2 linked regions of the Homo sapiens genome follow. The protein of the gene in region 1 purifies or fractionates together with the protein of each later gene. This does not show direct contact. Each region holds a gene or a part of one and is shown in the gene's direction. Other genes may lie near its edges. The genes, in order: C8orf34 and ASB7.

The links.
Region 2: the proteins of C8orf34 (region 1) and ASB7 purify together in Homo sapiens (affinity purification with mass spectrometry; 3 studies listed by BioGRID and IntAct, with this or other methods). This does not show direct contact.

The regions. Positions count from the first base shown.
Region 1 is NC_000008.11:68,525,588-68,541,510, forward strand, and holds part of C8orf34 (uncharacterized protein C8orf34), read left to right. Parts: exon of another isoform or gene 1-352; intron 353-5,005; exon of another isoform or gene 5,006-5,092; intron 5,093-7,395; coding exon 7,396-7,562; coding exon of another isoform or gene 7,563-7,579; exon of another isoform or gene 7,580-13,621; intron 13,622-15,923.
Region 2 is NC_000015.10:100,621,698-100,637,620, forward strand, and holds part of ASB7 (ankyrin repeat and SOCS box protein 7), read left to right. Parts: intron 1-7,739; coding exon 7,740-8,345; coding exon of another isoform or gene 8,346-8,353; exon of another isoform or gene 8,354-8,512; intron 8,513-15,923. UniProt on the Homo sapiens protein: Probable substrate-recognition component of a SCF-like ECS (Elongin-Cullin-SOCS-box protein) E3 ubiquitin-protein ligase complex which mediates the ubiquitination and subsequent proteasomal degradation of target proteins.

The DNA.
Region 1 (15,923 bases):
CTGAGGTTGTCAGTACAATGAAACCGAACTGGTCAGATGGGAGCAGATTATGCTGCCATTTTTCTAGATCTTTGAGTTGCACATGAAACCTGGGGCTGATCACTCCATATTTGTTTAGCCTGCCTGTGAGGTTCACAACAATCTTCCCAGCTCTGTGATCATCAATGATTTTAGATTCACCAGTGTAGCCATGCTTCATCACAGTGAGAAACAGGATGATAACTCTGGAGCATGGCTTGATAAGAACCTGGTGTTTGTCTCTCTTTTTAGCATTGTGGATGTTCCTGAGAATATCAACCAAGACATTCATGTGCACCATTGTGGCAGCATGGAAAGATGGCAGCTGAAAGAGACAAATTTCTTTCTTTCTTTTTTTTTTTTTTTTTTTTGAGACAGAGTCTCACTCTGTCACACAGACTGGAGTGCAGTGGTGTTATCTTGGCTCACTGCAGACTCTCCCTCCCAGTTCAAGTGAGCCTCCCACCTTAGCCTCCTGAGAAGCTGGGACTACAGGTGTGCCCCACCATGCCCAGCTAATTTCTTTTAAATTTTTTGTAGAGATGGGGTTTCACTATGTTGCCCAGGCAGGTCTTGTATTCCTGGATTCAAGCAATCCACCCATCTTGGCCCCAAAGTGCTGGGATTACAGGTATGAGCCACCATGCCTGTTTAAGATAAATTTCTTTTTAAAGCCAAAAGAGCATGCATTTAATTTCAGATCATTGATGAAGTCATCTGGACAGGTTGAAAGTTTTCTTTTTATTTATTTAGTATTCATTTGCTTATGTTAATACCAGGTAATGTGCTAGATACTGGATAAGACTGACATGACAAAAAATCCTAGACTCAAAGGAATTGCTTAAAAGTGGAGGAGAATGATTTTTAAAAATTTTGTTACTGCTCAGTTCACAGTACTAGGTATATGACAAGCACTTAAGTGTCTGCTAAACTGATTCTAAAACATCATATTTATATATTCTTAAAAATAGCTCTTACGCATAAAAATCTATATGCAACAATTGAGTGTGAAACTTTTCATGACCTCTTCAACTTCCAAGGCCTTAGTGCAAAGGGCACCCTTTAATTAATGACTGGAGTCAAAAAAAAAAAAAAGGACACAGGTTCAGCCTACAAGACTGTGAGGGTGAACTCAACAAGCTTAGGAGATAGTCCAAGAAATCATCCAATTTTTCACCAAAAAGAACGCATGGAATCAGATCAAACTAAATGTTTACCAACCTATGCTCAGAAAGAAAGCGTGAAACTAAACGGAGCAAGCTCAGGCCCACGAGTGAGACAGGAGTCAGGAGGAGGAGGGCCAGTGGTCAGAATGAAGGCTCAGGAGGCTCCACCTGCTCAGGCAGGCCCACAGGGGAGGTTCTGTGGGGTGACCTCTTTAAACTGTTCCTTTCCATTTGATCCTGGTTTAGAAATCACTCTTCTAAACCAAAGCAAAATGGATTCCTTGAGTATATGAACACCAAATTGAAATATTAACTGCTAGTCTTTCTCATCAGGCCTCTTTTTGTACACTTTCTCTTGATGTGGGATATTATGGCTCAAGAGGAGGCGTTCACATGTCCAGGATGCCCCCTTTGTGTTCTTTGAACACATAATGATATTAATTACCACTTAGAGGCTGCTCTATGTGCTTTGCATATTGTAACCCATTTCATCCTTATGAAAACACTATTATTCAGAAATGAGAGGCCCGGCGCAGTGGCTCACGCCTGTAAGCGCTCTGGGAGGCCGAGGCGGGCGGATCACAAGGTCAGGAGGTCGAAACCATCCTGGCTAACACGGTGAAACCCCGTCTCTACTAAAAATACAAAAAATTAGCCGGGCGTGGTGGTGGGCGCCTGTAGTCCCAGCTACTCGGGAGGCTGAGGCAGGAGAATGGCGTGAACCCGGGAGGTGGAGCTTGCAGTGAGCTGAGATCGTGCCACTGCACTCCAGGCTGGGTGACAGAGCAAGACTCCGTCTCAAAAAAATAAAAAATAAAAAATTAATGAGGAAACTAAGTCCCAGAGTGGCTACATCCCCATCCCAAGATTGATAGCCGTTAGGTCACTGAGCTAGGCTGCCTTGCTTCAAATTCTGTGCATTTAAATCCTTTGCTCTACAGTCTCTCTTCAGAAAGCTGTTCTAAGAATCCTGTTATTAAGCTTTAGGTTCAAATCTGGGAAAGAGGGGCCTCGGAACCCTAAGTGCTCTTAGAAAAACCCCTCTTGTTCTGATCTCACTCAACACCATCTGTATGAACACTCCTGCATCCCTGCAGCAGGCAGCTATTTTTTCTTAATGGTTGTAGGATCCACAGGCTGTGGGGCTGGAGAAGAGGGTGGTGTCATCCTTTATCGTCTGCTGCTTCCAGATCTTGCTGTCTCCTCCCTAAAACAATCCCCAGTTCTGCATCTTGTTCTGAATTTCCCAGTGTGTTAATTTCCCACATCATCTTCTAGCAATAATTTGCTAACTGCCAGCCATTCCCCTTTCTCTGAACATTCAAATGTCCGGCTCCTGTAACTCTCCCCAGTAGCTTTGCTGCATTGGTTAAGTCAGCGTCAACATCATCGGTGATCCTTCCCCAAACCTGGCCTCTCACTTTCTTTACCTACTCTTCGCCATGTATCTTGAATTCCACCCTACCTCCCCATCACTCCCTCTGTCATATCCTAGACCTTCTCATTCTCATTATCTGCAAATCCATGATGTCAATTTCAGGCATCTCACTTTCTGACTACCACCTGTCGTCTTTCTAGTTTATTGCCTCTGACACTCAGCTTTAACTGGGACCCCAAAAACACTGAGACTGCCAAAGTTTTCTTGTTTCTCACCCACCTTGTTCTTAATTTTTCTCCTTAGTCAGGTTTATCTCTGCCCCATCATGGTAATTTGTCCCTTGGATATGCCCTCAAGTCTTCTGCTCCTCTTTTCCTGTTTTACTCTCCTGGAAAAACTCTACCATGTTTACATCTAATTGTTTCCCTATTCTGTGGCTGAACCAACCTAGGCTAGAGAAGGACACATGGCCACACTGGCCAGTATCACTGAATTCACGACCACCAAACTCCAGGGGCACACTGGTGCTACCCGGCAATGCAGCTGCACCTGCCTCTGCCATTCACATATTCACTCTCCTCAATGATGACTTCACATTTTTCCTGCTCTCCCCCAATCTCCAAAACTTTTCCCCATCATCCTTATTCTTAACTAATGACTCTGTTTCCCATTTCAAAGAGAAAATAGCTGCAGTCATAAAGAAAACCTCCATAAGCTTCCTCCAGCAGACTCTCTGTGCACCTGGCTTATCTGTGCTCAGGTTTTCTGCTCTTCCCTATGGCTATGGGTGAGTCACTCATGCTCCGCCTAGGGCAAGCTCCTCCACTCAGCGCTAGGTCCTTACTCTAAATCACCCATGTAAGCTCATCACTTCTCTTCATTCCCTGCACCATTCCTTTCTCCTAGCTCATTCCCCTCAGCATGAAAGTACGATGGAACTTCTCTCTAAAAAGTGAAGCCTCCCTGGCCCCAGCAATTAATTGTTCTCTGTCTTTCATTCAATTTACAAAGAAGCTCCTCAAAGTAGTTTACTTGTGTGCACTGACCCCTCATTTTGCAATCTTTTCCAAATAGAATGTTATTCCCACCACCTATTGAAAGCAACCTTGTCAATGTCACAGGACGACCTCTTGTCCAAGTTACCCAGTGTCAGTCAAATGACCTCTGCCTTCTGAAATTCCAACCTCAAGTCTCAGCCCCCATCTTACTTGACCAAACAGCAGTGTTTGAGATTTCATCTCTCAGTTATTTATTCAAATATTTTCCTCGCAATCCGTATCTGTAATTGTGAAATTCAAAATGCTCTGACAATGAAAGTTGTTTTCATAATTCATTATAGCAAAACCTGATCTGAACCCTGCAGATTCTTTATTTATCCCACTCAGTGGGAATGCTGATACATAATGATGTAGAAATACTGAAGTATTTGATAACAGGGTGAGGCCACAGACCCTCTGGAATGTATTATATAATATAGAGTTTATGCAACAGAACACATCCAGCCTCAAGGATTCTAGAAAAACAGTTATGGACCTGGAATAAAATTCTAAGCTTACAATTGGTTAGATAACACTCTTTTTCTGTAAGTAGGCATGTTTTGATAATATGTTTGCCTTTTAGAAATAATTATATTATGTTTTATAAACTGACATTTGATTTATGCTTATTCATATAAAATAACATTTCAAGATACAGTATATATTAATTTTGCATAAAATATTTAATATCTAACCATCCTATATATATATTTAGGTACATAGTAAGCACAAGCAGTAGTCAGAATGTACATATAACATCTGCTTCAAACAGTTATACTTTGTGAATTATTATTTAACTCCTAAGGGGGAAAATCGCCTTAAAGCCGTAACTGTCTTTTTACATGAAAACATAAAATATATTTGGTAAGCATAGAATATTATAAAGTATAATATTCTATTACATTTTGTTAAATTTACAATATAAAATTTAAAGTTATGAAGGAAAATTTAATTGATTTATTAAACAGACCTAAGTAGAGCTATTTGCCAGGCACTATTCTACATTTATTAACCCTTTTTAATAGTCCAACCACTGGATTATTAAATATATTGGAAGTACTACAGTAAGCTGCATTATGGATAACAAAACTGAGGAAAAGAAAGAAGTAACTTGCCCCAAATTATTCATCTTGTAAATAAACTATGTTCAATTGTCATTCATAGCAGTATCTATATCCCTTCTAGTAGTCAAAATCAAAAGCGAATGGGGCTAAAATAATACATGAATATTGTTATTTTAAATGAATTTAATTTAGATAAAATAATTTAGGTGTTAATTCAGCTTAACATGTTAGATCTATCAGCTAAGAAATCCAAATTAAAATTTTGTTTTGATTGGTTTTGTTTACTTCTCAATGAATAAAGTTGGTCAAGGAAGACTTTAACATTGTTACATTGTTTCTCAGTTTAGAAGACACGTAATGCAATGATGCAGAGGACAGATGCCATGGCAAGAGACTGAAGCTAAATAAACTTCTTCCTTCCATTTTCAAGTGAATATTTATGTTTTATTTCCACTATTAAAGAGTAAACATGATTTTCTTTAAGTATTTGGAATGATATCGAGGGTTAGTCAAATTAAAAAATTACTTAAAAAGGGGTGCATTTTTACGACATCTTAGCAACAATCCTATTTCTGTTGGGAACCTAAGTTGGGATAGAAGATAAAATTAAAATAAATATTGCCAACATGTGTATGTTTTCATATATTTGTTCTTATTTTTTCCCTCACCTTTTTACTTTTAAAAGTTTCAAACCACAGAATATTTAAAAGTAGTAATATCAAGATCCACATACCCTCCACCTGTATTCACCAATGAACATTTTACCATCTTTATCTATGACCTATTATCTATATATCTATCATATTATCATATTCTATTTTTTGCTGAACCATCTGAAAATAAATTACAGATTTTATAAAATGTTAATTCTGTTATTCTTCAGCGTGTATTTCTTAGGAATAAAGATATTTTCTTATGTACCCATAATATAATCATCATATCAAACCAATCCCACCATAAAGTTATCTAATGTAGAGTCCACTTTCAAATGTCTTCAATTTTTCCAGTAAAGTCCTTTATGGATTTTTGTATACTTGTTTATTTATTTTTTATCTAGCATCTAATAAAAGATCATGTGTGGAATCTAGTTGTCAAATCTTTTTAGTCTTCTATAATCTACAACAGTCCTCTGCCTTTTGTTTCTTTTTTATGACATTTACATTCTTGAAGACTATGGGCCAGTTATCTTCAAAAATTTCTCCCAATCTGCGTTTGTCTGATTGTTCTCTGATTAAATTCAGATTAGATATTTTTGGAAAAAAATTCTACATAGTTGATGGGATGTACTTTCTTATTATATCATATTAGGAAGTACATAATGTCAATTTGTCCAGTATTATTGGTGATGCTAAGTTTGATCACTTGGTTAAGGTGATGTCCACCAGATTTTTCCAGTGTAAAGGTATCAGTTGCCCTTTCTAATTAACAAGTCGTGTCACTTCTGCTTGGACAAGATGGCATGGACTAATTACTTTCTGCTGTCCCTCATACATACCCCTATAAACCCTGAAATAAAGCAAGAGGAACCAAAAGAGAACTGTGAAAAGGGTACATAGGAAGGTGGAATGGTTAGGAACCTGAGGGCTGGAGGAACAGCTTAGCAGCAGGGCTCCTTGCAATTCCACACTTAACAGAATAAGGAGCATTTCTTCACTCCCAAAGTAGCAAGAGAAGGTGGCCCATGTAGGTTATTTCTTCCCCTGATTGAACAGTAGCTACACCAACAACACCAAGAGAAGCCAGAGACATAGGCCAGGGGAATTGACGATTCTCACTGGCAATACATGGTTAGGGGACATGCTTTCCTTCCCTGCCAGACTTGAGACTCCCTTTCTCCACTAAAGATGCTAGGAGAACTGAGTGGCGACAATGAATCTACCTCAGCGGCAAGAAAGAATCTACTTCAAAACATCAGGAAGGAACACAGAAAAACAGAAAGAACAGAAATATGGGTATATACAATGGACTATCCTCACGAGCTTTAGAAATGCTATTTAACTATTGAAACAAAAGTTATAGCACCATCTGATACTCAATAATATTTAAAAGTAGGGAAACTAAAGGGTCCAAAATGGAAGTAAGGTATCTATACTTTACTCCAAGTGGTAAATGTTGATATTAATAAAACAGTCTGCTGAATGTGGTACAATATACATATACATATTGTAACAGGAAGATCAGTCACTAATAAAACTATACAAAGAGATAGACTCAAAAGCACTATAAATAAAAGCAAGACAATTCAATGAGGGAGAGAATAGTCTTTTTAACAAATGGTGTTCAGACAACTATATACACATATGCAAAAGAAATTAAAGTTGAGTATTTTAAAACATCTTAATGTAATATTATAAAATATTTATTCCATCGAATGTGTTTTCCTTAACATGCATTTGCTTTGTAAATCAGGGACTAATAATCTGGACCTTCTAGCTCTTCTTTAAAAATCAGAAAATTCATCGAGTAGACTTTAATTTCCACATGGCAACAATAGGTAGGAGTAAATTAGCACCTTCCCTCTTAAGTGAGCCAAATTTCAGTTTCCCCATACTCACTTGGGAATTCCTTAGTGAGGTACGGATGGGTGTCCAAGAAAGATGATATTTCCATTATCCTTGGGGAAAACTTTAGTAACATGTCCACATACGTGTGTAATAAAATAACCAAATGGAAATTTATTTGTAGATTTTCTTTACTTATCACAGCTAATTAACATTTAAATATTTCTTCAGCTTAAAGATGGAGCCTAAGAACAAAGGATTAAAACAGCAGCAACAGCAACATAAGAAACTCCTGGCCGCAATGCTCTCTCAAGATTCTTTTGAGTCCATCCACAGCCCTACCCCATCTGTAACAGAAGAAGATATTGATAATGAAGATGATGCAATGGAATTGCTGGGTAATTTTAAAAATTAATAATTTCTCATTTTCTTCTTTGACATTGTAAAAAAAACGTGTGGTGATTAAGAGATTTTAAAAGTTTTGAATAGCCTTGTCTTAGGGAAAAGAAACCATTTAGTACATATTTTATTTACATTAGACTCACATAAAGTTGCATGTAAGAACTAAATTGAAATACCCTAAGCATATGAATATTTATTAGACTGTATTTTGTGCTTTGTGTATGCTGCACTTTACCTTCTGACTACGTAATGAAGCGTTATTCTGTGTGCAACTGTGATCAAAATTCAAGTCTGTCTGCTTTATTCTCTGATAATAATTGCCTTGTTTACATCTATTGTCTATAAAATATACCCAAAGTACATATTTCAGCCCTCACTCCAAAATGTCTACCTTTTATTTTGAGGATGCTTTAGAAAAATAGAATAAAGTTGAAAGGGGCAGATAGTAAATTCAGGTTTTATGTTTTCCGTAAATGACGGGAAAGTTTGCAGAGATTTCAAAGTTTCTTCAGGCCTGTTACTTTCATGAAACCTTATTAATCTTGTATATGTAGGATATCTTTTTATATTTTTTAATGTAGTATATGTATGTTTTTGCTTCATCAGAAATCTCTTCATATAAATTTTTAAACTGAACTTCTCTTTGGAACATCATTTTTCTGAAGAAAGAAAATGAAATGTTATTTCAGAGTGATCCACATATAAAACAATGAGTTTTGAAGTCAGTGGTATCAATTATTCTGCTACAAATAAAGAGTATGATTTTCAAATACTTTATAACAATATGCTGTTGTATTTTATTTAGAAAGAGAATAAATAATATAATTATTTGAAAGCCTTAAACACGTTTTACATATAGAATATGGAATCTCAGAAAAATATAGGCCATTTTCTGAAGTTTTTGTTAAAAATGAGATTCCTTGGTTTTAAGTGTTTATGGCAGTAAAATACTATCATTATAAAAAATGATATATTGCTTATCATTTTTGCATAGGCCTACAAAGGTGTTATTTGGTCAATGGTGACAGGTTTGAAAGATGTTTTCTGATGCTGTAAAAACTGCATTCATGCTAACATTAAGGAGATTGTATCATGGCGTTTTCATTACATGCTGTTGGTCCCTTCCAATTGGGTCTTTTCCTCACCTCCAAATCATTAACATGGCAGACGTGCCCTATGTGGCAGTGGTAGCTTCATTCAACAAACATTTACTGAGCACTTACTCTATGCTAAGCACTTGGCTGGGGTCTGGGAACATAAAAATAAAATCATTGTGATCTGTGTTTGAAGGAATTTTACATTGTAATGTTCAAGATACAATACGTCACTACCTGTGCTAACTGCGCTAATTGGATGAAGCACACAGTTGTGTATAGGGGTAACACCTAAAGCAGAGGTAAGGGACAGTGACCCAGGAATGTTTCCTAGAGAAGCCGATTACTCTGGCTAGTCCTGAAAAGCAAATAGATGTAAGCTCAGCAGGTGGGGTGTGGTCATTGTAGGTTTGCTCACGTAGGTATGGGCTGTTTTGCGATTGTGCTCCATAACTATACCTGTAAATGGTTCCTCTGCTTTGGACAGTAACAGGGAAGGGGCAACTGAGATCCAGGGTTTCTTTCAGGAGATGCAGTTGTCCACTCCATGCTGGTACTCCCTAGATCTCAGCTGCCCTGACTGAAGGTTCTAGTCTCCCAAGCTGAAGACCGAGGATTGAGTCTTGGAGACTATCTAATGATGAGCAATTAATAACTAGTCCTCATTAATTCTTTTTTTAGACATTTTAGCCTGTGGTCTGAGCAAGTTTAATAATAAGAGATAGTTGAAGGTTTGGACTTTCTTCATGTAATTCCACATATCTCAGCACAGGTGGCAAGCAGTGTAATAATGTTGGTCTCTAGGTCATGAGATTATCCTCTTATAGCTTGGAATGTTACAAGTCCACTGGACTTTATCTTAAAATAATGCCATATTCAATTTCTTGTTTTTGAAATGGATTCCAGCAAAATGTATGTGATTGTGTCTATTTCAGAAAAATATAAATGCTAAGTTCTTGGAAATTTATGTGAAATCTAATTTTATAGAGTTTATATAGAATCATTGTAAGATGCAATAGAGACATCTGGTATTTAAAATCTTTTTGAATCTACATTTTGTAGATGTGTGTGCTATAGCTTATGTGTTTGTAAATGTTTAACTTGTCTTTGTTATCTATACCAAGATATAACTGGCTGAAAAATATTTATTATGCATGGAAAGCACTCTGTAAACCTTGTGAAGTGATAAATAAGTGAAAGGTATAATTGTTAGTTGACATTAATATAAAAAAGGATTATTCTTCAATAAAATTGGTTGATTTGAAGGGAAAAAATCCTTTTAGTTGAACTAGTAGAAGTTAGTAATAACTATTGACTCTTGTTTTGTTTATTAAGGAAACTAGCATTGTTAATATATACTGATTAATATTTAATTATTCACAGTTGTTTAATTATATATTTGTGGATTTCTTTTCTAAATGTTTTAGGCATATGAAAATATTATAGTACAACACCTGTAATTTTTAAGTAGATCAAATATTTTCTGTAAGATTGCTTTAAATGCTCCTTATAAATTCACATTGCAAAAGTAACTTAATATGGAATTAACACTTGTCAGATAATAAAACAGCCAAACTTGTGAATTTTTAAGATATAATCATTTTAAGCACCTCTGAAATTGGTGCTGTAATTATAGAAGATACTGAGTAAAGTATCTGCCAAGTCATCTCATGCTCAAATATAAGATATTTTCAAATATTTTAGTACAAATATTTTAGTAATCGTTCTGGCAATTAATGACCACTATGAAAAAAAGGTTATAGAAAATCTTCACATATTTTTTAAAATTAATAAAATAAATGATTTTCAAAAATGGAATGACAAGTTACAATGGTAGAATGAGAGATTTATTGCTGGGCATAGTGGCTTAAGCCTGTAATACCAGCACTTTGGGAGGCTGAGGTGGGTGGATTGCTTGAGCCCAGGAATTTGAGACCAGCCTGGGAAACATGACGAAACCTCGTCTCTACAAAAAATACTTATATTAGTCAAGTGTGGTTGCATGCACCTATAGTCCCAGCTACTGGACTGAGTCTGGAAGGTCGAGTCTGCAGTGAGCTGTGGTCATGCCACTGTAGTCCAGCCTGGGTGACAGAGGGAGACCCTATCTCAAAAAAAAAAAAAAAAAAAAAAAAAGAAGAAAAAGAAAAGATCTATAAAAATCCCTGTATATTTTACTACATTAATTATCAGAGAACATTTGAGGAACTTCGTTAGTTTAAAAGATATTTCACCTTGGAAACATGTGCCCATTTTTCTTACATTAGATGCATTTTAATCTTATTCTTGTTGAAAGGCGAGTTTCAGTCACGTTTTTGATTATTCTCTTTATGATTGATATTCATTTAAAAATATCAGTATTATTTGAAAGATATAACTACTTTTCTTATACATTCTAATATGGGTATTACTATCCCATACAATTTGTAAAAGTTTATAAAAAATGTATTATGCTTTCTCAGAATTGATGATGAGGCAAGTATATAAAAATCAAATTCCAAAGATGCTAAAAAGGAAAACAATATTAATTATGTTTTATACTTTTTGGTCTTAGCCTATAATTATATAAAATCCAAAATCAAAAGTAAAATTACATTGCGACAAGGTGATTGCAAGTACATTTTATCTGTTTTAAAATGAATAATCAAGAACAAGTGTAATTATACTGGGATTCTTTGCTGAATATAGTCATTGAGTTTCTATTACCTCAATATGTTACCAAATTTTGTAAAATAAAAACAATTTACTAGAAGGAGTTAATACATTAAGGTGATCATTTGACACTTTCTTTCTTATATTCTGATCAACTTTTATAAAGTAAATATTCACTCTTTGTTCTGTTTTTTAAATTGGAGGCTTCTTAAAGAAGAATGTGCCCACATTGGCAAAATAAGAACAAGCATTTTGCCTAATGAGAAATGAATGCTGTCACTGAATGATGTAAAATTTCTTTAAAAAGGAGAGAGAGGGAGCACTAAATGTTTAAAGAAAAATCTACCTACCTATCCATGTACCTATATTTTAATAAAGTATGTAAAATAATCTAAAACACAAGGGACTATACATAGAAACTCTTTTTATCTCTTTGTTTCTTTTGATCTTTAGAATATTGCTCATTGGAAGTAATCAGGATAACAGAAAAGTTATCACCTTAAAATGAATGTTCTTCATAAAAAAGATTATTCATAAGAAATCTAAGGACTTTCTTTTTATTTTCTTTTTTTTTTTAAAGAGATCAAGTCTTGCTTTGGCTAATGCAGTTTGTATCACTTTCTTATGTCCTCCTTCCTGATATATTTTATAGGAGCACTTGAAAAATGAACTGCTTAGAGTAGAAAAAATCACATAAATTATAAAGTAATTCTAGCATAGACTTGAGAAAATGGTTTCTTTATGATTCATTTTCATCATATTATCATGTTAAAAAGCTTTATTTAGGATTCTTTCTTTGCTTTTGCTAAATGTATCTCAGTCCCTTTTATTACCTTCTAGATTTACTTGTTTTGTGTTTAGAATTGTTTTGTTTTTCATACCCTTCATTCTTCACTTTTGTTTTTTTCAGCAAAATATCAAAACATTTGCAAATCGTAGAGATTATCCTTTAAATAAATACAAATCTGCATGCCACCAAAATATATACATCATCCTATGTGATTTACTTTTATGGTGTTTAGTAAGAAATATTGCTTTATTTTCTTGTAAAAAATTTCCAGTGGTAAAAATAAATCAACATAGTAGAATAAACGTCAATAGTTTGAAAATGAAATCTAAACCCATAAACAAATTATTGACAAATGCCTTTTATCTCAATTATACACCTATTGGAAAATTTCTTTATAAGACACAGCCATTTCCAATATATTTGTGAAAAGAGTTGTTTAAAACCTATTTATCACTTTGAATAAGTTCCACGTTTTTTGACACATACCAATAACATAGAATAATATATTTTTTCTTGTTTATGTTATAGCTTTTCACTGAGTACCTTGTAAAGGCATGAGACACAGTGTGATTGGCATATGTGGTGGTGTTAGTGGTATATGGCCAAAGCACCAGCTTATACTCTAATGACCCAGGTCTAGACCTCATGCTACCTCTTGCTAATATTGTCCCCTCAGGTACACGTAATTAATTGTAAAGTGCTGGTGACTACATATGACCTTCCTACTCAACAGGGATGTTGAGAGGATAAAAAAAAAATGAGATATTTCTCTAAAGTGCTTTTTTTTTTTCTTTTTGTCATGGCTAACAGGAATATTTGACAAAAGACAATAGAATTTCTATACAAAACTTTTCTTCTAGATAAATTTATATCCTTGAACCCAGATACATTTTGTATGCTACAGACAAAGGAAAAAAAAAGCTTTCTTTAGCTTTGGGAAGTTGCCTAAAAACAGCAAAAATGTATGTTTCCCACAACACAATAAAATTAAAGGCTTGAAAAGATAAGAGGTAAAGCTATATGTTTTTGCAAGCCAAAATGTTGGCTATACCAACACAAAGCACTAAATTTTTCATTTTTAACTTGGATATTAAAGCAAGGATAGATGATTTGGTTAAGGATGTATAGAAAATTATTCTACTGTCTTTCATTTTCCTCTGTGTAAATGTATAATTCCTAGGAGGAAAAGAAAAATGTTTTCTGCCTACATATGTATCTCTAGTAGCAAAAGTTGGGCTTAGGGTAGGAATAAGGTGGAAAGACAAGGAGATATAGAGAAATTAGAAATTTGTACTATATGTTTACATGCTTATGTAAATAAAATTATAAAAGTGTTGAAAATCTGTTCTTAAAAATTTCTTGAATTATATTTATAAATATGAAAATGTTTGAAGCAGCACAATTTGATGGTTTCACATTAATTCACTGTGTAAACAAACCTAAACTAAATTGAAAAGCAGTGTTACATATTATTAAGGTATTGTTGCTTTTGAAATAAACTTGCCCACTTCAAATGCTTTATAAAATGGTGATGCTATATTTCAAGATCATTTGTTTAGCCATAGTAGTAATTTTCATCTAACTTGACTGAGTTTAAATTTTGTACTCTATTTAAAAGTCATTTGAAAGCAGTGCAAAATCATAACTTTATTGTAGTTTTATTCGTGGTTGAAAATGTGCAAAGAAGTGTAATTAATTCAGCACTTGGTTGCATTTTAACATCAAAACCAACAGATATTAAAGAAGCATTAAAACTCTTGATGAACTTATTAAAAATCAAATGTATAACTATAGGAATCCATTTAAATTTTCATATATCACAATATTCCCAACAACTTATTAAAATATCTCTAAATAGAAACCTTAAAATTATTGTAGTTGGCCAAGCACGGTGGCTCACGCCTGTAATCCCAGCACTTTGGGAGGCCGAGGCAGGTGGATCACCTGAGGTCAGGAGTTCGAGACCAGCCTGGCCAACATGGCAAAAATCCCATCTCTACTAAAAATACAAAAAATTAGCCAGGCATGGTGGCACATGCCCGTAATCCCAGCTACTCGGGACACTGAGGCAGGAGAATCACTAGAACCTGGGAGGCAGAGGTTGCAGTGAGCCGAGATTATGCCATTGCACTCCACCCTGGGCAACAGAGTGAAACTCCGTCTAAAAAAAAAAAAAATTATTGAAGTTTAATACTAAATACATGTTAACGGAAGAGTGGGCACAAAACTTGTCAATTATTTTCAACATCTGAAAAAATGGCAGCTTTTATGAGGTTTTATTCAAGTATTTTTAAAAAGAATATTATAAACACATTTTCAAAATCCCAAATGGTAAACTAGTCCTATGTGTGAATTATTTTTGAAATGAAAATCTTATGATTTTTCTTTTAAAAATGTCTTATGTTCAACAATTTCAGAGAGAAAATAATCATAACAATATTAAATATTTTTTTAAATTGCTCTGAAACTATTAAATAGAGGAGCACTAAAGAACAAAATGGAAAAAATATAAGTGTTCTAATTAAGGTAAATCAAAATCTAGTGATTTTATTTTACTTTTCAATTTTTTGGTTTATGTCTGCAAAAGACAGTTGAAGGTCTTATTTTAATAAATGATGTATTTCTTATATCTAGTATGAACTTAAAATTTCATATACAATTTTATGTATTTATTTTTTATCTCTGGCACTTAATGACAGAAAAAATTTCATATATAGTTTTAATTTCTTTAAAACTTTTTCAAGAATTGTCAAAAGAGGATTTGTTGGACTAGCGCTTTTTCACTTCTTAAGTGCTCTCATATGCTGTCATAGTTACTTTTTGATTACAGACATTTTGAGAGGACTCTGTATTTAAAGAGTTTAAAATAGAGGCCAGGTGCGGTGGCTCACTCCAGTAATCCCAGCACTTTGGGAGGCCAAGGCAGGCAGATCACAAGGTCAGAGTTTGAGACGAGCCTGGCTAGTATGGTGAAACCCTGTCTCCACCATAAACGCAAAAAAATTAGCCAGGCGTGGTGGTGCATGCCTGTAATCCCAGCTACTCGGGAAGCTGAAGCAGGAGAATTGCTTGAACCCAGGAGGCGGAGGTTGCAGTGAGCCAAGATCACGCCACTGCACTCCAGCCTGGGCGACAGAGCGAGACTGCGTCTCAAACAAAAAAAAAAGAAAGAAAGAATTTAAAATAGAGTATTATTAATATGGTAAAACAAAGTTTAAATTTATTGCAGGAAATTAATTATATGGAAGAGAAAATAGCATAATATTAGAAGTAATAATAGCGTGACCTTTGTGTTCAGATAGCCCTTGTTTGAAGCTTCGCCACCGACCCTAATTATATGATTTAGGGAAAGTAACTTTTTTCCTTCAAGTATCAGTCCATTATCAGAAAAATGGAATTAATAACAATACTCATATCTTAGGGTTTCGTGAGGATGAAGTAAAATCATGCATGGAAGGTACTCAGTATATCTGATAAAGAATTAGAGCTAGTTCCAGGCATGCTGGCTCACACCTGTAATCCTAACACTTTAGGAGGCATAGGTGGGATGATTGCTTGAGTTCAGGAGTTCAAGACCAGCCTGGGCAGCATAGAGAGACTTCATATTTATTAAAAATTTAAAAAAAATTACTTAGGTGTGGTGGTGTACGTCTGTAGTCCCAGCTACTTGGGAAGCTGAGGGGAGAGGATCACTTGAGCCCAGGAGGTTGAGGCTGTGGTGAGCTATGATGGCACCGCTGCACTCCAGCCTGGGCAATAGAGTGAGATTTTGTCTCAGAAAGAAAAAAAAAAGAAGAATTAGAGATAGAGAAAAGACTTGT
Region 2 (15,923 bases), on another chromosome or scaffold:
TCCAGTAATCCCAAAGTAAAAACAAGAATGAAATAATAAACAGAATAATTGAAATCAGTGGAATTGAAAATGGGCAAATGATAGAGAAGATAGATGGAACTAAAAAACAAATAAGGATTCTTTGAAAAGATCAATAAAATTGATGAATCTTTGTCTAGAATGGTGAAAAAAAGAAAACAGGAGAAAAGATACATAACCAATATCAAGAGTGGAAGAGAGATTCTCTGTAGTATTGGAAATCCTAGCCAGAGCAGTCAAGCAAGAGAAAGGAATAAAAGGCATTCAAATTGGAAAAGAGAAAGTCAAATTGTTCCTCTTTGCTGATGATATGATCTTATATTTAGAAAAACCTAAAGACTTTACCCAAAAAACTCTTAGATTGGATAAATCAGTACAGTTGTAGGATACAAAATCAACATACAAAAATCAGTAGCATTTCTATATACCAGTAATGAAACAGGCAAAAAAAGAAATCATGAAGGTATCTCATTTATAATAGCTACAAAAAGAAAAAAGAAAAAAAACCCAACAACCTAGGAATAAATTTAACCAAGAAGATGAGAGATCTCTACAAGGAAAACTACAAAGCACTGATGAAACAAATCGAAGAGGACACAAACAAATGGAAAGACATCCCATGCTCATGGATTGGAAGAATTAATATTGTTAAAATGACTCTTCTATCCAAGGCAATTGGTAGATTCAATGCAACTGCTATCAAAACACCAACATCAGTTTTTCAAAGTTAGAAAAAACAATCCTAAAATTCATATGGAACCAAAAAAGAGCCCAAATAGCTGAAGCAATCCTGAGCAAAAGGGACAAAGCTGGAGGCATCACACTACCGGACTTCAAAATATACTACAAGGCTCTAGTAACCAAAACAGCATGGTATTGACCTAAAAACAGACACAGACCAATGGAACAGAGAATCCAGAAATCTACGTATTTTTAGTAAACTGATTTTCGACAAAGATAACAAGAACATACTTTGAGGAAAGGACACCCTCTTCAGGCTGGGAAAACTGGATATCCATGTGCAGAAGAATAAAACCAGACCCCTGTCTCTCACCATATGCAAAACAACATAAGATGGATTAAAAACATAAACATAAGACCTGGAACGTCACATCTACTGGAAGAAAACAGGAAAAACACTTCAGGACATTGCTTTAGGCAGAGATTTTATGGCTAAGACCTCAGAAACACAGACAACTAAAACATAGGCAAATGGGACTATATTTTAGAAACTGAAAAACCTTTATACAGCAAAAGAAACAATTAATAGAATGAAGAGACAGCCTGTTGAATGGGAGAAAATATTTGCAAACTGGCATCTGACAAGGGACATTGTAATATCCAGAATATACAAGGAACTCAACAGTAAAAACAACAAATAATCCCATTAAAAAGTGGGCAGGTCAGGCGTGGTGGCTCACACCTGTAATCCCAGCACTTTGGGAGGCTGAGGTGGGTGGATCACCTGAGGCCAGGAGTTCAAGACCAGCTTGGCCAACATGGTAAAACCCCATCTCTACTAAAAATACAAAAATTAGCTGGGCCCACGTGGTGGTGGATGCCTGTAATCCCAGCTACTTGGGAGGCTGAGGCAGGAGAATCGCTTGAACCTGGGAGGCAGAGGTTGCAGGTAGCCGAGATCATGCCACTGCACTGCAGCCTGGGCAACAAGAGCGAAATTACATCTCAAAAAAACAAAAGTGAGCAAAGGACACAAATAGACATTTCTCGAAAGAAGACATGCAGATGTCCAGCAGGCATGTGAAAAATTGCTCAACATCATTAATCATCAGGGAAATGCAAATCAAAACCACAATGAGATATCTTATCCCAGTTGTAATGGCTACTGTTAAAAAGACAAAAAATAACAGATGCCAGCAAAGAGGCAGAGAAAAGAAAACTCTTAATACGGTGTTGGTGGGACTGTCAATTAGTATAACCACTGTGGAAAACTGGACATTTCTCAAATAAACTAAAAATAGAAATACTATGTAATCCAGCAGTCAAAGAAAACTCTTAATACGGCATCGGTGGGACTGTAAATTAGTACAACCTCTGTGGAAAACTGGACATTTCTCAAATAAACTAAAAATAGAAATACTATATAATCCAGCAGTCCCACTACTGAGTATCCAAAAGAAAAGAAATCAGTATATCAAAGGAATACCTGCACTTGTGTGTTTATTACAGCACTATTCACAATAGCAAAGATTTGGAATCAACCTAAGTGTCCATTGTGGTATATATACACACAATAGAATACAATTTGGCCATAAAAAATGAGATCATTTGCAGCCACATAGATGACGAGGTCATCATGTGAGGTGAAATAAGTCAAGCACAGAAAGACAAATATCATGTTCTCACTCATGTGGAAGCTAAAAAAAGTTGGCCTCTCGATAGTAGAGAATAGAAGATAGAAAACAGAGGCTGGGAAGGGTATGTTGGTGGTAGGAGGAGATAAAGAGAGGTTGGTTAATGGGTTCCATTTGTTAGAAGAAAGAAGTTCTGACGTTCAATAGCAGAATAGGGTGACTATAGTTAACAACAATGTATTATGTATCTCAGAGTAGCTGCAAGAGAAGACTTGAAATGTTCTCAGCTCATAGAAGTGATAAATGCTCAAGGTGATGATGGATAACGCAGATACCCTGACTTGATCGTTACACATTCTGTGCATGTAATAGATACTCACATATACCCAGTAAACATGTAAAATATCACATACCAATAAAAAATTTAAAAAGAGTGGAAGGGATATGTCACTACAGATCCTCTAGACATCAAAAAGATTAGGAGTATAATGGGCACCTTTGTGCCATTAGGAAAAATGGACAGATTTCCTGATGCACAAAACTGATGCTAAAACTGACCCAAGGAAAAAATAGATTAATAGCCTTATATCAATTTAAGAAGTCTAGCTCATAACTAAAACTTTTCACTGAGAAGACTTTAGGTCCAGCTGGCTTCTCATTGAATTATTTCAGATATTAAAGGACGTAAATAAGGATTCTACACAAATTTTTTGACAGAGGAGGGAACACTTCCAAGCTTGTTGTATGAGGCTTGTGTAGCCCTGATACAGACCAAACAAAGACCTTGGAAGAAAACTATAAGCCAATATTTTTCATGACAATAGATACCAAAATTCCTAACGAAATATTGGCAAATCCAGTCTATTGGTGTATAAAAAAAAATATTATGCCCAAGTAGTATTTACTCCAGGAGTACAATATTTGTTTAACATCTGAAAATCAATAGGCTGAGTAATTTGTCACATTAGAATAAAACATAAATACCTAACAATCATTTCAGTAGATTCAGAAAATGGAACAGTCTTAAATACCTTCATGAGAAAGATGGGAAACCAGAAGCAGAAGGTGATTTCCAAAGCAATGAAAAGCTACAGCTTCCCGGGTGGTGAACTACTGAATTCTTTCCTTTTAAGATCAGGAACCAAGGGAAGGGTCTGTGCTTTTGCCACTTTATTCAGCATCCTACTGTATGTTCTAACCAGTGGAATGAGGGCAGAGCAGTAATCAAGGGTCATGAATTGGAAAGAAAGAAGTCAAACTGTATTTGCAGAGAACATAATTGTGCATGTAGACCCTGGCAAGAAAACTACAAATGTGTTCTAGAACTAAAAGTGATTTTGGGTAGGTTATAGAATACACAAGTCAGTGTATAAAAATCAATTTTATTTCTATCAGCAGTCATCATTTGGAAAATGGAATTTTAGCTCATTATAATAGCAACAAAGTTTAAAATATTTAATAATAAATTTAACAAAAGATATGCATGACGTATATAAGCTATAAAACATTGCTGAAGAGAATTAAGACCTATATAGAGAACTATCCCATGTTTATGGTTTGGAAGAATCAATATTGTTTGGATCATTTTGGAGAGATTGCCATCCTTAGAGTCAGTGGCGTTCTAATCAGAATTCCAGCAGGCTTGTTTGAGGACTTGACAAGCTGATTCTAAAATTTATTATCCCAAATATTAATAATTTTAAAGAAGGCTAGAGAACTTAAGCTACCTGCTATTAAAACTTACTATAAGCTACAGTAGTCAAGACAGTGTGGGATTGGTGTATGGAGAGACTTTTAGGTCAATGGAACAAAACAGAATTAAGAAATAGAGCGACACTTTTATGGTAAATTGATTTTCAGCAGTGACACTAGGGTAAATCATTAAGAGTCCTTTTAACAAATTGTGCTGGAACAAGTAGATATCTTTGTGGGGAGTACTGAACCTTGAACTTACGTTATACCACACAGAAAAATTAATTATGGGCTATTGATCTAAATGTGAGAGTTAAAAGTGCAAAATTCCTAGAAGAAAAAAAATCTTTGTGACAATGCATTGAGCAAAGATTTTTAAAATAGGATACAAAACTACAAACTGTAAAATAAATAATGGGCTTCATCAAAATTAAGAGTTTTGCTCTTCAAAACATAATACAGAAAATGAAAAAGCACGCAACAAACTAGGAGAAAATATTTACAAGACACATCTGACAAAAGGCTTGTATCCAGAATATACACAGAATTTGTACAACTCATTAATGAGGAGACAACCAATAAAAATGGATAAAGGAGGTGAACAGACAATTCACAAAACAGTATATGAATACGTTCAGTATAACTAGTTATTAGGGAAATAGAAATTAAAAGCACAATAAGCCACGATTTTACCTCTCTAGAATGAGTGAAATTAAAATGACTAATGATACCAAGATGTAGAACAATCTGAACTCATCCATTGCTGATGAGAATGTAAGATGGTGTAGCCATTTAAAAAGGAACTTAGGAAAGTTTCATGTGCATTTCACATACGACCCAGCAAGTCTCTCGTGGGTATTGAACCCAAGTGAGATGAAAACACTCTGTCCCCCTCTCCTTCTCTCTCTGTCTCTCTCTCTCTCTGTCTGTCTCTCTCTCATATATTAATTCATGATAGTGTTATTCAAATAGGCTCAAATTGGTAAGAACTGAAATGCCCATCTTCTCATCAATTGATTAAAAAAACTATATAGTATACAGTACTATCCAGCAATACAAAAGAGTGAACTGTCGATACAACATGGAAGTATGGCGGAAACATCATGCAAAGTGAAGTAAGTCAAACACAGAAGTCTACATATGATTCTATTAATATGAATTTCCAGAAATGACAAAACTTTTTTGACCAGTGGTTTGCCTGGGACCCAGAGTCTGGGAAGGGCTAAAGAGAGATGAAGGAACTTTTTGAGATGATGGAATGTTCTATATTTTAAATAGGGTGGTGGGTTATATACTCGTATACAGTTATCAAAGCTCATCATCTGTACCCTTAAAGTGAATGCATTTTACCTCAATAAAGCTGTTAGAAAAAAAAAAATCCCCTCATATTCATAGGTAATGTTTCTTTGCTTCTGTTTATATACATTAAATTTTTTTCTCGTAAATTTAAATGAACTTGTTGAGATTATGCTACAGCTTATTTAAAATAAGTTCCACCTGGGGAGAAAATGTTTGCTAAGGGGACAAAGTAATAAGTTCAGTGGGGTTGCTGTTTTAGATGAAATGTTTAGGGAAGGCTTTTCTTTTTTTGATAAAAGGACATTTGAGTGGATACAGAGTGACATGAGTTCACTTAATGTTTTCACGTCTTGTCCATTTCTTACTGAATTTCTGTCTAGGCGTTTTGTAGTTTATGTTGCTATTACAAATGAGATATTTTTCTTACCTTATTTCATGGGCTAATAATCTTTAAATTACATTTGTTTGCATTTTCATTGCTTCTAATCTCCCATTTGATTTTAACAGAGACTATGCAGGTCATTGTTGTGTGTGTTAATCTCTGTTTTTCCTTAGCTCAGTGTAGCTTCAAAATGTACATAGAACCTGAAAGAGACCTGAAATGGAAACCAAAGATGCAAGTGCAGTGTTTTGTAACATAATTTTAATTTTACTGTCAAATAGAACGAGTATAGGATACAAATAAGGATGGTGGCTGAAGGGTGGGAGAAGTGAAAAGAAGGTATTCTTAAATTTCACTTGCAGATTAAGAGGGAATGTCTGCCAGCAGTTGACTGGCCAGGTATAGATTAGAAATGACCTCTGGCAAGATGTTTTGTTTCATTTGAATGGGAGGGCATCTTGTAGATTTCACGCCTGACTTTGAACTTCTGGTAAGCGATGCACCTGGAACCGGCTTGAGTGACTTAAGGGCTCAGCAGTATCTGCCCGGTGGAAACATTAGTGTCATGCTCATGCCTTACCAGCAGATGGCAGCAAAATGCTGTGTTAAAATGTTCTTACCCTACTTAAATTTAAGTCCTGTGGTAAACAGATACTGTATATTTTTCTTTCAGTTAAGACCAAGGTAGATATAATGCCCTTATTTCCCCTAAATAGATACAACTAATACTACCATTGTGTACTGACACTTTACAGTAAATGTTTTTAGAAATCTACATGATATGGCTTACCTAAAAACATCTTATTTTGTATAGGTTTTGTTAGCAACTCCTTCACTGAAATACTTTCCACAGTATTGTTATTTTACATATAGTTTTCTGCCTCAGATTTTTCTAAGAGAACCATTTGTCATAATATGTTCTAGACCTAAATAACGTTTATTAAACAATACGTGAGTTTTCACTCACCTGTGGAGGCTGTGTGTGTGTATGTATGTGTAGGTGTGTGTGTAAAACATTAATGATTTTTTTCTTTTATTAACAAGCCAAAAATTAAGGTGACTTTTACAAGAGAGCATTTTCATCCTGGGTAGTTAGGTCTGATCAATTGATCTTTTACATGGAATTGCTGACTTCTAGGAGGTGCCCGGCATAACCAGTCCTCGTCCGTCTTCTGCCCCCAGCCAGGGATGCCATGGGGTGAACGCCATCAAGAACCAACCTTTGGCTTAATGAAAGATCTGAGGCCAGTGACAAAAGACTGTGACTTGAGTCACATAGCAGATAAATTATTATAGTTGTTTTTCCTTCCCCAGAGATCAGTCAATTAGGAGAGGTTTTTGGAACTGTTTTAGAAAATATTTTTACAATGCTGAGGTTATTCACATAATGCATTGCTTAATTCTTATAAACTCCAAAGTTCGTGTAAAACTAAGAATTCAGAATAGACTTCTATCTTGTGAAAAAACAATTTGTCAAGATTACTTGACATATATCTGAGATGCTTTGGAATTTTTACAGACCACAGAAAAACTTTTTTTTATTACTTAATATACCCTAAAACAACACGGTGTGCCAGAGCATAGTGTATCTGTAATTTAGAGCAGCAGATGTTGCTACACATGCTTCTCTTTAAGACCGAGAAGAAGCACAAGAGAAAATAAAACAAAAAGTTCAAAACAGAAGAGAAACATGAAACAGTGCAGAGATGAAGGAGTTGAGTAGCCAGAGGCAGTTGGTTAAATTAGCAAAGACAGGGGATGTGGTGATCTGTACTCCGTGTTTTTTGTGTATATCTTTTTAAACACTTTGTCTTTCTCCTTTCATTAACCCAGACGTGATAACATTCTACAAAATTTATTTTCCATTAAAACCAGACTTGAATTAAACTGAGGAAAAACGTACTTGATATTCATTACAGTGTTTGGTTGCTTCACATTTTATATGAGAATTGGCCACAGTTTGCTGTGCCATGGTAATGTTTGTTGTTTTGTCTTGGAGTCTGCTAATACTTTCATTTTGGTTTTAACTCCAGCTGATCCTACAGTTAAAGACTTAATCGGAGGCTTCACGGCTCTTCACTATGCAGCCATGCATGGCCGGGCCCGCATTGCACGCTTGATGTTAGAATCTGAATACAGGAGCGACATCATTAATGCAAAAAGCAATGACGGCTGGACTCCCCTCCATGTGGCTGCCCACTACGGCAGGGACTCATTTGTCCGGCTCCTCCTGGAGTTCAAGGCTGAGGTTGACCCACTCAGTGATAAAGGTACCACACCGCTTCAGCTCGCCATTATCCGAGAGAGGTCAAGCTGTGTGAAAATCCTCCTGGACCACAATGCCAACATCGACATTCAGAATGGTTTCCTGTTGCGATACGCCGTGATCAAAAGCAATCACTCTTATTGCCGAATGTTCCTTCAGAGAGGGGCAGACACAAACTTGGGTCGCTTAGAAGACGGACAGACTCCTTTACACTTATCTGCCCTTAGGGATGATGTGCTGTGTGCACGGATGTTATATAATTACGGAGCAGACACGAACACACGGAACTATGAAGGACAGACCCCATTGGCTGTTTCAATAAGTATTTCTGGAAGTAGTCGACCATGTTTGGATTTCTTACAAGAAGTCACAAGTATGTAATATAATTATTACTTTATTGCATTTTTTAAAAATTTGCATCTTCTGAGGAGCTTAATGTGTTTTTGCAACTTAAGATGACTAGATATTAATCATTCCTATAACCACTGCTTGGTAAGCGATGCCTCATTCTTCTGAAATAAAAAAAAAACTTTGACTGTATCACAAGATTTCATAAAAATTCAATTGTGTTTCTAAATGTAATAGGGGTAGACAGTAAGAGTGAGGGAAGGAATGGAGAGAAGGACAGAGAGGAGAATTTTTTTTAAATGAACAAAGATCTGTGTTAGAACAAGGCAATTCCTGTTGGTCATAAGGATAATCTTACCTGGCTTCCATTGACTGCAAGTTGAGGAGTTAGAGGGGGAATTTTGGATCTTAGATTCCTTACCTGTGAAAATATCCTAGAATTTGTGCTTTATTGCTAAGTTGTTCACGTTTTAATTGTGGCTTTTCTGCTTCATGAGAGCCCACATGAAATGGAGCAGTGGTGCTGTGTATTTAGGGATACCACTCGTGGAAGTTAAGGATGCTAGAAATTGTTGTAAGAAAATATTTGCAGTGGGAAGTTTGGCACCACTGTCCCTGGACCACATGGCTTCCATTGTATTTGAACGTTTTTGTGTGGGTGCTTTTTTTAAAGCCTGGAAGTGTCTGGCCCACTTTGTGTAGTAACGCGTGCGTCCTAGTTGTTCCTCTGATGGGGTATCAGCTTGTGTGTACTTAGCCATCCTCTCTTGTCAAGCTTCCACGTGACCAGTTGAATGTGTGTCTCATGCTTAATGTCCACCATGAAGCTAAAATCTGTAAACAAAATGGATTTTGCTGTCTGCTGAACTTTTTAATGAGTTCCTTTTTCCTCACTGGTTTTGAGCCTTCGGTCATTATTATACAAGAGGACATATTAACATCCTGGGTACCAGCTACTAGAGGGCAAGGGCTCTACCTGACCTGCTTGTAAGTAACCCACTCTACCCCTTGGAGCGGGCCTTTGGAGTACACATTTGCTTTATGAAGAAACAAAATGTAATTTGAATTTTGCAGATTCATGGAAGAAAAGATGCAATTATTATCACTAATGTTTTCAGACTAAAGCGTAAGAAAAAATCACACTGCTTAGTCTACTTAGTGCTGGCCAGTACCAGTTTCTGTGATGTTGGAAATGGTCTCTCCTTGCTGTCCAGTATAGTAGCCACTGGTCCCATGTGGCTGCTGAGCACCTATTAATGTGACCGTTGCCACTGAGGAACTGAAATTTCAATTTTATTTAATTGCGATTTAAGTTTAAATGGCCACAAGTGCCTGGTGGTTCCTTTGTTGGTCCACACAGATCTGCCTGCCTTGGGAGAGGTATCTGGGGCTGACTGGTGGGTGTTCCATTGCAGAAAGCTTCTGAGACACACAGAAGTCGCCACAGTTGGGAGACGTGATACCCGCAGTGCTGCAGTCCTGCTTGCCTTGTTGTTGTTCTCTCAACTTCTACATTAGAGACTTAGTTATGATGAGTGTGGCCGCCCTTAGGAAGGCATGTTATATACTCACTTAAATGCCTCAGCCCCCTTTTTTAAAATACTTTGTTCAGTGGTTAATGGCATAGACTAGAGCTAGACTGCAAGAGTTTGAGCCTTAACTCTATCCCATGTTAGCTGTGACCTTGGGCAGGTCGCCTAATCTCTCTGTGCCTTAGTGTCCTCACCTTCAAATTAAGATAATACAGGCTTGTTATGAGGATTAAATGAGTTAATATTTATAATGCACTTAACACTTAAAATGTTCTTGTTCTTTGTAATTGTTTTTCAAGGTGAAGTGTGTAACTAATAAAGTGAGGGGGGATTAACAGCGAGGACTGGCTTGCCACCAACAGAGCAAATCTTTAGATTCATATTCAACTCAAGCCTCCCAGTTTCAACCCTGTATACAACTGTCCAGAGTCTGTACATGGAGGCACGCAGCCACGTGGCCGAGAGGAGCCGCTGGGCAGGACAAGCACGTGGGCGGCTGCCGTGTGTCCCTGAGCCCTCAGAGCTGCCCCTAGCAGTGCTGTTGGACAGCAGGAATGTTGAGTTAAAGACTCACATGCACTTTAAAATTTGAGCAGATAGAAATGTCAGTGGGGACTGCCTCTGTCTGTGCTTAGGTTCTCCACTGTACGAGGAGCAGAGCTGTGCGCCTAGGAGGTCCTCAGTAGTCCTGGCAGTCTGGCTGACTGCGCACAGCGAGGGGTGGGGACTGAGGAAGCACAGGCTGCTTTCCTGAGTGCAGGGTCCTCCGTCTGTTAAGGCTCCAGTTGTCCTTTGTCTTCAGGTGCCTCAACATAATTTAGTATTTCTTGACTCTCCAGTGGTGTTTCCTGCCAAAAGCAAATTTGGTGTTTCTGCTTCACCTGTGTGTTCTTTGGCTCTAAATAGGTTTTCTTTTCCTGGTGAACAATATGGGCTAGAAGGAGCAGCTGTGGCTGATGCTCTGGACTGAGCTTTCTCATGAAAAGCAGCTTGAAAGAAGGTTGGTTGGTTCAGGGAGCACTAAATCAAAGCTGAGAGCTTCTTCTAGCCCGCGTGCTGTGGGCACCGCAGCCCCAGGCATCATGCTGTTGGCTTATGATTGGAGATCGCAGACTGCCGAGGTATAAGGACAGCAGAGGGGCCACATGGTGGTCTTCATTCAGGGACATTTTACTCTTCATCACACTGTTTTGCCTAGAAACAGATTATTTAAATTGGAAGAGACCAAAAAAATTATAATACCAGAATTTAAAAACTCCTCTGGCCTTTTGGAAAAATTGCCGTAAAAACTCTGATCTATATAGTGCAAAAAAAAAAAAAAAACAGAGCGCACCCGTGGCTTGGTAATAAACTAACATCTGCTTGTGACTTGTTAGTGCTGAGTAGGGGGAGAGGCCATGAAGAGCTGCTGTTGCTGTTCCCTACAGCCAGCCCGCTGTCCAGCATTCAGACCTCAGAACCTCCCCCTTCCAGGACGTCAGGAGCGCAGCAGGGCCCATCCATGGAGGAGCCACTTCTCTGTGCCCAGGAATGATAAACACAGCTAAGAGGAGCCATAGCACCTGCCTGAATAATGAGCGCCACCTGTGGGAGGAAAGCTGCGTCCTGCTTAGTTGGCAGTGTTTATAAGAAGCCAGTTTTTGGTTTTTTACTTGTAGCCAAAAAAAAAAAAAAAAGAATGGAATGAATAAATTAAAGAGAGAACAGTGAAGGTGTGACCGATGTCAAGTAGAAATGGTAGTGACGGCTGGGCGCAGTGGCTCATGCCTGTAATCCTAGCACTTTGGGAGGCTGAGGCGGGTGGGTCACCTGAGGTCAGGAGTTTGAGGCCAGCCTGGCCAACGTGGTGAAACCCCATCTCTACTAAAAATACAAAAATTAGCCGGGCATGGTGGCACATGCCTGTAATCCCAGTTACTTGGAAGGCTGAGGCAGGAGAATCGCTTGAACCCAGGAGGCAGAGGTTGCAGTGAGCCAAGATTGTGCTACTGCACTCCGGCCTGGGTGACAAGAGTGAAACTCTCTCAAGAAAAAAAAGAGGAAAGAGAGGAAAGGAAAGGGGAAAGGGAAAGAAAGGAAGAAAGGAAGGAAAGGAAGAAGGAAGGAGGAAGGAAGGAAGGAGGAAGGAAGGAAGGAGGGGAAGGAAGGAGGAAGAAAAAAAAGAGAAATAAATGGTAGTGAGGACAGACAGCAGTGGACATTTTGGAGGTAAATAGCCCCTTGTGCCTGGGCCAGGACTAGGTTGAGGCAAGTGAAGTGGCCAGGGCACAAAACTTAGGAGGCCCTCATTCTCAGGCTCGTGCACACAAAGTGGAATAATGTGTACATAATGTTTGCACACACACCACTCCAGAACTAAGAGGATCCTGGAGGCTCTGGCATGTGGGCATTGGTTACAGTTCTCCAGCCTCAGGTGAAGAGCAGAAGGTTGTGGGAATGTTTGCCCCATTCAAAAGAGAAATTTAGTGGTTATGAACAGGAAAAGGGTGACACAAGCAGATGTTATTAAACAGATACAGTACTATAACCTTGTGAAAAGATTGTTCCTCAGTAAAGCTTGAGGAGTAAATAATACCACCCATCCTGAAGAATCAGATAGTGAGTTACTGAGTTTTTTTTCTTATCTTCTTCCTCACAGGGTAAACTCCCATAGTCAATGTATGGACCAGGGAGTTATTCAGAATATGAAATCTTTTAGAAAGAGATTCCATGAGAAAGCTGAACCTCAGGCAGTGACTAGCAGGAACGTTTAATCATATACGTATTCACGTGTACACACATATAAAAGTGAGGCTTTAATGATCGGCACAACTGCAATTTTGTTCAAAGAGAAGTAGGAGAAAATATATGTTTTTGGGGAAAACCCCACCTCAGAATGCTTAAGCACAAATTATAGACCTGGCAAGGTAAGTACTGTTCTCACCGAGCCACTTCTGCAGGTGAAAGGAAAGGATTGAAAAGAAAAGAGATAGGGCCAGGTGCAGTGGCTGACACCTGTCATCCCAGCACTTTGGGAGGCCAAAGCAGGTGGATCACTTGAGGCCGGGAGTTAGAGACCAGCCCGTCCAACATGGTGAAACCCCGTCTCTACTAAAAACACAAAAATTAGCTGGGTGTGGTGGCACGCACCTATTGTCCCCGCTACTCACGAGGCTGAGGCAGGAGAATCTCTTGAACCCGGGAGGCTGCAGTTACAGTGAGCCGAGATCACGCCACTGCACTCCAGCCTGGGTGACAGAGTGAGACTCCATCTCAAAAGAAAGAAAGAAAGAAAGAAATAGTAGCTGCAGTTCCTTGTGCAAATGGTATGGAAATTGGGGGAAACTTTCAGTAACACAGTCCAGTGGAAGGTAAGATAGCAGTAAACAGGATGGCTCCCTCCTGGAGAATGCCCCCTGGAAAGGAGGCGGTGTCTGATTGGCTAGATTATTTGCAGAAAAGAGGCCATACTGTGCTTTCTACCTGGGAATTCCTTTCACTGTGAGGCTTTTTACCCTTTACGTAGGAGGGAAAGGTTCAAAAGGCAAAGCAGAGTCAAAGGTTGGTTTGCCCCAGCAGACAAGGTACAGCACTGTTGGGGGGTCACCTTGTCACTCCTGTTTCCCTTTGCCAATGACACCCACATCTGTACTGTGTTGAGAATTTCACCTCCTCAGAGCTGCTGCTTATTAAGGCATTAAGACAGGATTTTACAATTACCATCTAATAATTTCATTAATCTTAATAATTAATGGTTGTTTTAAATTCCCCGGCTGGTAATTCCAACACCTGTGTCATATTTAAGTCTTGTTCTGATGCTTATTTTGTCTCTCCAGACTGTGTTTTTTTCTTGCCTCTTAGTATGTTTTGTGATTTTTTTACTGAAGCTAGACATGGTGGGTAACAGAAACTGAGGTAAACAGTCCTTTGACCTGAGGCTTTTTGTTAATCTGGCTGTGAATTGGGCTGTGAGTCATGTTTATTGCAGCTGTAGGTGCCAGAGGGTTCCGGTCCCTGCAGTGCCCTTGTTTCTGTCCCGTGTCTTGGCTTTGGGCTTCCCTAAGCAGCCTCGTTGGAGAGAGGGTGCATCCTGCAGCTTTCTCGGCTTTCATCCTCTGTTACACGGTGAAGCCCCATTGGTGCAGTTGTAAGGTGTGGGGAGGGCCAGTGGTCTGCAGTCTTCTGATTCACTCTCAGTCTTTCAGTGGGCCTGGGTCCCTAGGCTGCGTCTTCACACGTTTCTTCTTGTGTAGCTTTTCCAGCCCCATAAGCGAGACAGGAGGCCAGAGGGGACTGGACTCAGGAATGGGCTTTCCTCGTGGCTCTGAGACAAGGTTCTGAGAAAGTCTTTCCCCCCGGGGCTCGGGCCTTTGTCATGGAGAAGGTTCTGGGTGCATTTCACAAGGGTTACTCTCACCTCCTCATGCTGGAGCCATGAGAGTGTCTTTACTGGCTCTTTACCTTGAGGACTTGGTGGGGTTCCTGGGAGTAAAACTCACAGCTGAGTGGGGGGCTTCTTAATACTGGCTGCCACTCTCAGACCAGTCAATTCACAGTCAAATTTACCATTTCAGTGTTCGTCAAAATTACCATTTCAGTTTTCCTACCAGTTTATGGCTTCAGTGACTACGGCTCCAGGTACACAGATCTCAGCCATGGCTCTGAATTTGTTTCCTCTCCAAATTGTGTGGTGGAGGTTTGCCCCACATCTTCAGTTTTCTGATGGATCCATGAAAAGTCATTGACTTTGAGTTTGTTCAGGTTTTTTGTCTTGTAAGAATGGGAGTGATGATTTCCAAGCTCTTTACATGTTGGAACTAAAACTGGAAGTCTATTTAGTTTATCATTTTTACTTAAAATAGGAAAAACATATCTGTCCGTTGTCCTTTGAGCTGATTAATGTTTTGCCCACTGGGATCAGGTGTCTCCTGTACATCATCCCAAAGATCCCCCAACTGTGCCTGTGTCAGAGGCGCTGTTGAATCAGTAGAATGGGATGATAGCTAGCAGCTAATGGGCTTCTGATCTAGTGTCTGACTTGCCTTATAAACTTTGACAAGATGTTTAACACTCCCCACACCCCGCTGGGATCAGCTTCCTTCTCTGAAAAACAGGGGAATTGGAACATAGTCCCCAAGTCCCTCCGTTTTAAAAATTCTTGCCACTAACCACTCTTAAAGGCTATGATTTTCTGCTTCTTGTGATTTAAAACAAAACAAAAATTGTTTTTTATTTATTTATTTATGTTAGAATGACGTTTTTCAGTGTGGACTTTAGCCGGGGCTTCTCAAGATTGTTTTAGGTGCCTATGAAATCAAAACGAATTTCCTAACAATACTAAGATGTGATTTGCCTTTTTCACTGTGATGACATTTGTGTTGATGGTGTACAAGCAGTGGCAGGTGAAACTGCTGGCATGTTAGCGTGAATCGAGACAGTGGCCCCAGCCGGTACTGGTCGTTGTTCCCCGCCAGACACTCTCAGGAAAAGACATTCCAATTCCACTTAAGAATGTCCGTGATGAGGCGGTAAAATTAATTTTATTAAATCCTGTTCCTGCGAATGCTTTTTAAATGTTCTGTGGGATGGAAATGGCAAGCATTCTTACTGCGTACCAAAGGGCAGTGATGATGATTGAGGAAAAGCAACTTCATTTGTTTGAGCTGAGCCGGCAGCTTTTTCATGGGACACCATCTTTACTGGAAAGAGTAGAAGCTAAACTCTAGCCGTTTAGTCCTGGGTATTTGGCAGACATTTTCTTGAAAATGAGTAAAATTCACGTGTCACTTTAAGGAAAACAACTGACAGGACTTAGGGCCAGTCATAAAATTTGAGCTTTGCAAATGAGGATTTTAGAAAACTTGTATTTACTGCTGTGAGATTCGTAGTATCTAGAGACTTCTTCAATCAGTGGAGATATTAACAAAAGTGATTTTTTGATCTCATGTAATGGAACAGGTCAACATTTGGAAGATCCACATAACCCAATGAACCTTGTTTTCCAAATGACTAATGCGTAATGTGACAACAGTCATACATGGATAAACGATCCATTTCAAGTGCAAGGTGAACCAATGGATTTTAATGTAACA